2 linked regions of the Homo sapiens genome follow. Changing the gene in region 1 together with any one later gene gives a genetic interaction. Each region holds a gene or a part of one and is shown on either strand. Other genes may lie near its edges. The genes, in order: SLC16A8 and FABP4.

Region 1 (3,865 bases):
GGCGACCGCGCCGGGGACGCTCCGGGCGAGGCGGAGGCTGACGGTGCGGGGCTGCAGCTGCGCGAGGCATCCCCCAGGGTCCGGCCCCGCCGGCGCCTGCTGGACTTGGCAGTGTGCACCGACCGCGCCTTCGCCGTGTACGCCGTCACCAAGTTCCTGATGGCGCTCGGGCTCTTCGTCCCCGCCATCCTGCTGGTGAACTACGCCAAGGACGCGGGCGTGCCCGACACCGACGCCGCCTTCCTGCTGTCCATCGTGGGCTTCGTGGACATCGTGGCGCGCCCGGCGTGCGGCGCCCTGGCGGGCCTGGCGCGTCTGCGGCCGCACGTCCCGTATCTGTTCAGCCTGGCCCTGCTGGCCAATGGGCTCACAGACCTGAGCAGCGCACGCGCGCGCTCCTACGGCGCCCTCGTCGCCTTCTGCGTCGCCTTCGGCCTCTCCTACGGCATGGTGGGCGCGCTGCAGTTCGAGGTGCTCATGGCGGCTGTGGGCGCGCCCCGCTTCCCCAGTGCGCTGGGCCTGGTGTTGCTCGTGGAGGCCGCGGCTGTGCTCATCGGACCGCCCTCTGCCGGTGCGCCCCGAAGGAAGAGGGGGTGGCGAGCCTAGTGCCCCTTAGACCCAGGGAAGCTCCATCCCCCTGTCTCAGATGGAACTTCCAGGGATGAGGGGAAGGGGCAGTCGGGTGGGTGGACTCCCCTTCACGGCCAGTTAGTCCCTCCTCCAAGCCGGACCGCCCGCTCTGGGTGAGGACAGAAAAGCCCAGGAAGGTGCAGGGAAGAAAGCAACACTGGTAGCTGGCCAGATCTGCCATCCCAAGCAGTTGGCACAAGGCCATCTGGAGCGCAGGTGCTTATTCTCATTTTGCAGATGAGGAAACTGAGGCACAAAGCCTTAGCGCAAGTTGCAGCCCCAGAATGAGAGCCTCAGTGTACCTGCTGCTAAATGCCCACGCCTTTAGAATGGTGCATCTAGAATGGTGACTGGAATGGGGACAGTATCTTTGGGAAACTGGTGTTGGGGCCAGAAACAGAGTGGGGGTGCTCAGCGGGCAGATGGGGAGAAGCACTGGTGTCTTTCACTGTGCAGATGGCCTGCTGGCACTTGTCACCGTCACCCTTAGGAAGTCATCGTCATGAGGGTGGTCAGGGAAGGCTTCCTGGAATATCCCCCAGGTGAAGGCACAGCATGGATGGGCAGGGCTTGTTGGGGGGGAACAGCGTCCTTATGCAAGCAAGGCAGGAACCAAAATTGGAAAGGTGGGAGTGGGGGACATGAGGGTTTTCCTGGGTTGTCAAGTTATCTTGAAACAGCAAGGGAGCCTGCCTTTGAGTCCCAGAGGCTAGAGGGCTGTGAGATGGTGCAGTAACCAGGGAGGACACCTTGCGGGGGCCGCAGGCTGCACTGAGATGGGGTGAGCTGCTCGTCCTTCCTTCAGGGCTGGGCTAATCGAGTGCCCTCACTGAGCTCTGTCATCCCACCTGACCCAGTGAGAACGGCAAAGTCCCTGAGCCAGTGTGTGGGCAGGCCACAAAACCAGCCTGCCCAGGCCTCAAGGAACCGTCTTCCATTTCTTGTGTGAATCTGGATGGATCTGATGGGCAGAGGAGGTGCATGGGGTGAGGAGAATGACCTAGAGAGAGGGTGGAGCACACAGACAAACCACACTTTAGGGGGAAATACTTGCAATTAAGAGATTTTCCTGGTCGGGTGTAGTGGCTCATGCATGTAATCCCAGCGCTTTGGGGGGCTGAGGCCAGAAGTCTGAAACCAGCCGGGGCAACATGGCAAAACCCTGTCTCTACCAAAACAAAACAAAACAAAATTAGCTAGGTGTGGTGGCGTGCACCTCTGGTTCCAGCTACTCAGGAGGCTGAAGTGGGAGGATGGCTTGAGCCCAGGAGGTGGAGGTTGCAGTGAGCCAAGATGGCACCACTACATTCCAGCCTGGGCCAATGGAGTGAGACCCTGTCTCAAAAGAATAAGAAAATTCCTGAAGCCAGGTGCAGTGGTTCACACCTGTAATCCCAGCACTTTGAGAGGCCAAGTCGGGAGGATCCCTTGAGCTCAGGAGTTCAGGACCAGCCTGGGCAACACAGCAAGACCCCATCCCTAAAAAAAACATAATAAAAGAGAGACTTTCCTGAGTTTGAAAGTAGTATCTACAAGGGATAGAAGCCTTGAGAAATAGAGAAGGAAATGAGTTACTGGCCCACAAGCCCCACCTGTGCCGATGATGGCTTGGTCTGGGATGCTCATGGGCCTCCTGGGACAGAGGGGTGGGAGGACTAAGCCAAGCCCCTGAGGACCAGGGCATTTACATGGCAACAGCAAGAGGTGGAGGCCCCCAGGAGGGCAGAGCTAAGCCCAGGGCCCCCTCCCCGCTCCCACCCCAGATACCCCACTGCCAAGCAAGTCACAGGACACTTGTGGGGCTTGAATCAGAGGGTGGAGGGGACGCCTCACCAGAAGCCACATATCACTTAAGCAATTGAGGTCCAGGGACAGCAAGTGACATTTTTAAGGTTTCAAATGGCAGAATCCACATGAGGTTTTACATCTGTAAAACAGGAATAAAGAGTGGGCATGTGTGTGTCACCCAGGAGCCTCACCAAGTCAGTGGCACCACCCTTGACCTGAGAGTGCAGGAGAGTGAGGGGAGGACCCCACAGGACCTTACCTCTCCCTCCTCTTCCTCCTCCTCCCCAGGCCGCCTGGTGGATGTGTTGAAGAACTATGAGATCATCTTCTACCTGGCCGGCTCTGAGGTGGCCCTGGCTGGGGTCTTCATGGCTGTCGCCACCAACTGCTGCCTGCGTTGTGCTAAAGCTGCCCCGTCAGGCCCAGGCACTGAGGGCGGAGCCAGTGACACTGAGGACGCTGAGGCTGAAGGGGACTCTGAGCCCCTGCCTGTTGTTGCAGAGGAACCCGGCAACCTGGAGGCCCTGGAGGTGCTCAGCGCCCGGGGCGAGCCCACAGAACCAGAAATAGAGGCGAGGCCGAGGCTGGCTGCCGAGTCTGTATAACTCAGGGTGCTCTGGGTGGGGTGGCCCAGTGACTTGGGAACACAGCTTCTTGTCTCAGAGAGCCTGGTACGCTGGGAGGCTGGTCTGGGGTGGTCACTCCCGGGGTCCACGTCTGGGCTCCAGTTGATCCCCTGGGTGTCTGGGAACTGCCTCCCTCATCTGTGCCCCAAGTTCCGCCAGGCCCTGCCCCATCGCCAGTGAAGCTGCTATGGAGCAACAGGAAACTGGTGATAAAGCTCAGCTGAACGACAGAAGGTTCTATTCCTCCGCCCAGGCTCCGGCTGCCACCTGAGTTGGGGGTCAGGGTGGTGGGAGGGAGTCTGGGAGGTCTCTCTCCAGGCCCCCTAAGCAGGCTTCTAGGTGGGCAGTGTTGGGAGGAAGCGTCAGAGATGGATGAAGAGACCCATCGTTCCCAGGTGTAGAGACACAAGGGGCTGGGCGGGCACAGGGCTCAGGGGCACAGGGCTGGGTGGGCACAGTGCCTGGCTCCTGCCCAGCCCCACTGCTCAGAGCTGTCTGCTGAAGGCCCCCTCGCTGGCATCTGCCTTTTCCCGTGGAGGGAACGAGGGGTTGGCAGCAACTAGGGTTCAAGGTTGGGGTCTGCCTGCAGGCGGGGGGCCCGAGCGGTCTGAGAAGACTCACAGTTCCCAGGGTCAGGGTCGGTTTGAATCCCAGCCCCGCTGACTTCCTTGCTCACTGGAGGCTGAGCATACGACTCCGTCCCCTGGGGTCCTGGGGAGGGTGGGACCAGGCGCTCAGTAACACCATGGGCCCTGCTGCCTTCCACGAGGTGGCCATGTCCCCTCACCTTCCCAGAGGGCATCTCTCCCACTAGAGGATAA
Region 2 (3,917 bases), on another chromosome or scaffold:
CAACATGGCGAAACCCTGTCTCTACTAAAAATATGAGAAAAAAAATTATCCAGGCATGTGGTGGGCACCTGTAATCCCCGCTACTAGGGAGGCTGAGGTAGGAGAATCGCTTGAACCTGGGAGGCAGAGGTTGCAGTGAGCCAAGATCGCGCCACTGCATTCCAGCCTGGACAATAAAATCAAAACTCCATCTCAAAAAAAAAAAAAAAAAAGAAAGAAATTACCAATTGAGTACAATATACACTATTTGGGTGATGATTACACTAAAAGTCCAGACTTTATTACAACTCAATATACATATGTAACAAAAATGCACATGTAGTCCGAAATCTATAGAAACAAAAATTTTAAAAAACCAAATTGCAGTGTTAGAATACACATAGTATGTATTCAAATTCAATCATTTAAAAACCTGTAGGAAGCAAATTAATTTAAAACATTATCAAAAACATCCCTCTATTAAGATTTGTCACTTTTATTTACTTTCCATCTGAACAGTCTTATTCAATGGGAAACAGGTGGATCACTAATAGCAAGCCTACCTGGATGGTACATCACCACAGTCTGTGTATCTATGCAACAGTCCAGAGTAGATGAGCGTTATTACTGTGCCATTAACAAATGCAAAACCTAACTTTATCAGGCTTTCATAGCAACTTGCTTTCCTACAGAAAATCCTGTTGCTTACAGAATTTCCTGCCACAAACATTTTTGGGAAGCCCTCAGGACACTTACACAGGCTTGTGAATCAATCACATGCTCAGCAGGTACTGTTCAGTGGGATACACAGTGTAGCGATGCATCACTCTGAAATATTTTAGTTTCTTTTTTTCCCCTAAATCTGGGTATGTTCGTGGGAATTTGCAGCACATGTGAACAACTTCTGTCATTCTTGCATGAGGCAAAGGGAATTGAAAACCACGATTACTTTAGAAAACTAGTTTCACAGATTGGTCACTGTATAAAAGAAGGATATTGGTTTTGGTAGCTTGTGACCACACACCATTTCTGATCTGAATAAATTCAGAACTTATAATACAGTTCAGAAATTGAATGCAGTTTCTCAATATGAGGAAAGTATTTTAGAATAAGGCCTATTTTTCAAAGGATCTGTGGAAATCAATGCTATGCTCTCATTTAGGAGATGGAAAGAGTGAGGTTAAATTATCATTTCGATTAAATCTACAGTCCAGATTACTGGTGGATGAATTGAATGTACTTTTTTATTCATATAAAACATTTGAAATCAGAAATCTGGAGTACTTTTAAATCCCATTATTTATTTTGTTTTAATCGCCAGGTAATTCCTGAGACAGGAGTGTCCCGAAGAGCCTTTGCAATTATGTAAGAATCTCCGAGGCAGTTCTTATGTTCCTCAATTCAAAAGAACCACATAACTGCAATTTAAATAACACCCCACACACACACACAAAATAAGGTCGAAGTTTATCTCAAAATAATTTCCCCTCTCTACACTGGGATAAATATGTATAGGAATAATAGGGGGAAATTCAGTGCACTGAGCATTAAGCTGTCAAAACAGGAATGTTTAAAATATCCTGTTAGTGGTTTAAAAATAATTTGTACTCTAAGTCCAGTGACTATTTGCCAGGGAGAACCAAAGTTGAGAAATTTCTATTAAAAACATGACTCAGAGAAAAAAATGCAGAGGCCGGTAATGAAGGAAATGATTGGATCTCATTCCCAATTGGTCATTCCTAAGATCACATGTTCTGAGCATCTTTAAAAGGAAGTTATCTGGACTCAAGAGGGTCACAGCACCCTCCTGAAAACTGCAGCTTCCTTCTCACCTTGAAGAATAATCCTAGAAAACTCACAAAATGTGTGATGCTTTTGTAGGTACCTGGAAACTTGTCTCCAGTGAAAACTTTGATGATTATATGAAAGAAGTAGGTAAGGAAATGCGTTGTGGAATGACTGGATTTATAATATTTTCTTTTGGGAAAAAGAGTTTACAGCTGTGTTTATAGCAATGTCTGGAAGCCCTGGCCAGAAATGAAAAATGCTGCTTTCTATAGAGAGGCTGCACACATAGCAAGTGATAATCATTTGTTTCTAGAGAAATTCTGAACCAAAGCTACAACTAATGTTTCCTAAAGGTGTACCAATATAAAAAGGTGTCTAAATGGAATGTTTATTGTCTTTAGAAATGATAAGATTTGACTTTATTTGAAAAACTTGGGTATCCTTGGTTTACTTAGCTCTTTGCCTGTTTCTCTTTCATCCCCTTTTGCATGTAAATTAAGCAATAACTTGGAAAAAAGTTAGTATGCAATAATTTTCATTTCAAACTGAAAGCACTCTAGTTCCCTTAATGCAAGGTTCTTTTTCAGTAACCGTATGTTAGCCAATTATTTTCTTGTCTCAATGTTAATCTATTAAAATATGTGGTTGTTTTATGATAGACAAAAATTTTAATTTCAGAAAATATGTTTCTTAAATGGCTTAAATACTTCCTTTGACTAGAAATGACATAGTATGCCATAGAATTATCAACCAATTTAAAAGGAGAATGTTACGCATATAACATACCTCTTCTTTGATAGTAGAGGTTTTTAATTTTTTAGACGCTGTTAACTGTCAGCATGTCATTGGATGAATGTCTCTCAGATAACTATGGAGGTAAATCAGAAAAGACAACTTCTCACTCAGGCAGCTTCTACTTTGAAAACCTTTCTCCCTCAACCCCATGCATGACAGTCCAATAAAGTCAGAACTGGGGTTAGCAAACTGGGGAGGAATTTTATGCAATCTTAGGGTTTAGAATGTAATCATTAAATCGCAAAACACTTAACCCTCCTGTAAATTATACAGTATATATTTTTTTGCTTGTCTGTAACTATGTTTCTTGTTTTTAGATGATAGGGAAATTGGTGACTTCAGCATGAGAGAGACTTTCTAGAATAAACTAGAGTGATTCAATAAACTAATTAATATGCACTGATGCAGAAAAGCCAGGATTTGGGGCCATTTAACTATTTATTTTTAGAAAAATGTTATACTTTTAATATTTATATTTTCTAATAATACTGTGTTTTTAAATTATAAAGGGCTGATTATAATTAAAGTCAATAAAACACCTTCTGCATGAAATTAGCTGCTGTAATTGAGGATGAGTGGGCAGGTATTGTCTTCATCATCAAATAAAAGCAAAATCAAGCAAATGGAGACTGGTTTTTCCCAAGGTCAGTCATTCTAGAATCACACTCAGTTTTGCCTGCATTCACGAAGTGGACTCACTTCATACATTTAATGTTATATTTTGTAACTGAGCCAGGACATGAAGACACACCTGTGGCCATTTTTCAGACAGACAGCCAAATCGGAGCCTCAGCATTACTTATTTTGCGCCATATATCTCTCCCAGTTCTTCCCAATTTCTAACCTTTGGTTGCCTTTAGTCAAAGAAAGAGCTTAGATTTACATGCACATGTTTAAAAAATTCAGCAAATCTATGACTGCCATAAACTCTGCATGACATACACAGTGTCAGCAAGTTACTGCTATGTTAGGCTGTAAATTATTCATTCCATACCTTGCACAAGAAAATATATTCCCCTTTTTAAGAAAGAAAAGTTCACAACTTAGGTGACTGGAAATCAAAGTATTGGCTTCTAACCTATTTTAAACTAAGAAATAGTGATTTATTAAATGTTAAAGTTTTCACAATTTGATGACTAGTCCCTTTTAAATATCCCCTATAAATTATTAGCAATGATATCACCATTCTAAAATGTTATAAATGTAGGAAACATTTTGCCTTTTGTAGAAATTCATGAAAATCTTCATTTCATGGTGGAGTAATTTGAGAAAGAAGCACAGAAAAGTAGACTTGGCAACAAATGCTATGAAATGTGACTTTTGTATACTCAAAACAGACGAACCTTTAACTAAAT

Evidence for each region.
Region 2: changes in SLC16A8 (region 1) and FABP4 together harm fitness more than expected from each alone (negative genetic interaction), as found in Homo sapiens cells (one large-scale study listed by BioGRID).

What each region holds. Positions count from the first base shown.
Region 1 is NC_000022.11:38,077,546-38,081,410, reverse strand, and holds the end of SLC16A8 (monocarboxylate transporter 3), read left to right. Parts: coding exon 1-571; intron 572-1,043; exon of another isoform or gene 1,044-1,798; intron 1,799-2,463; exon of another isoform or gene 2,464-2,557; intron 2,558-2,677; exon of another isoform or gene 2,678-2,706; coding exon 2,707-3,023; 3' UTR 3,024-3,274; downstream 3,275-3,865.
Region 2 is NC_000008.11:81,481,092-81,485,008, reverse strand, and holds the start of FABP4 (fatty acid-binding protein, adipocyte), read left to right. Parts: upstream 1-1,775; 5' UTR 1,776-1,841; coding exon 1,842-1,914; intron 1,915-3,917.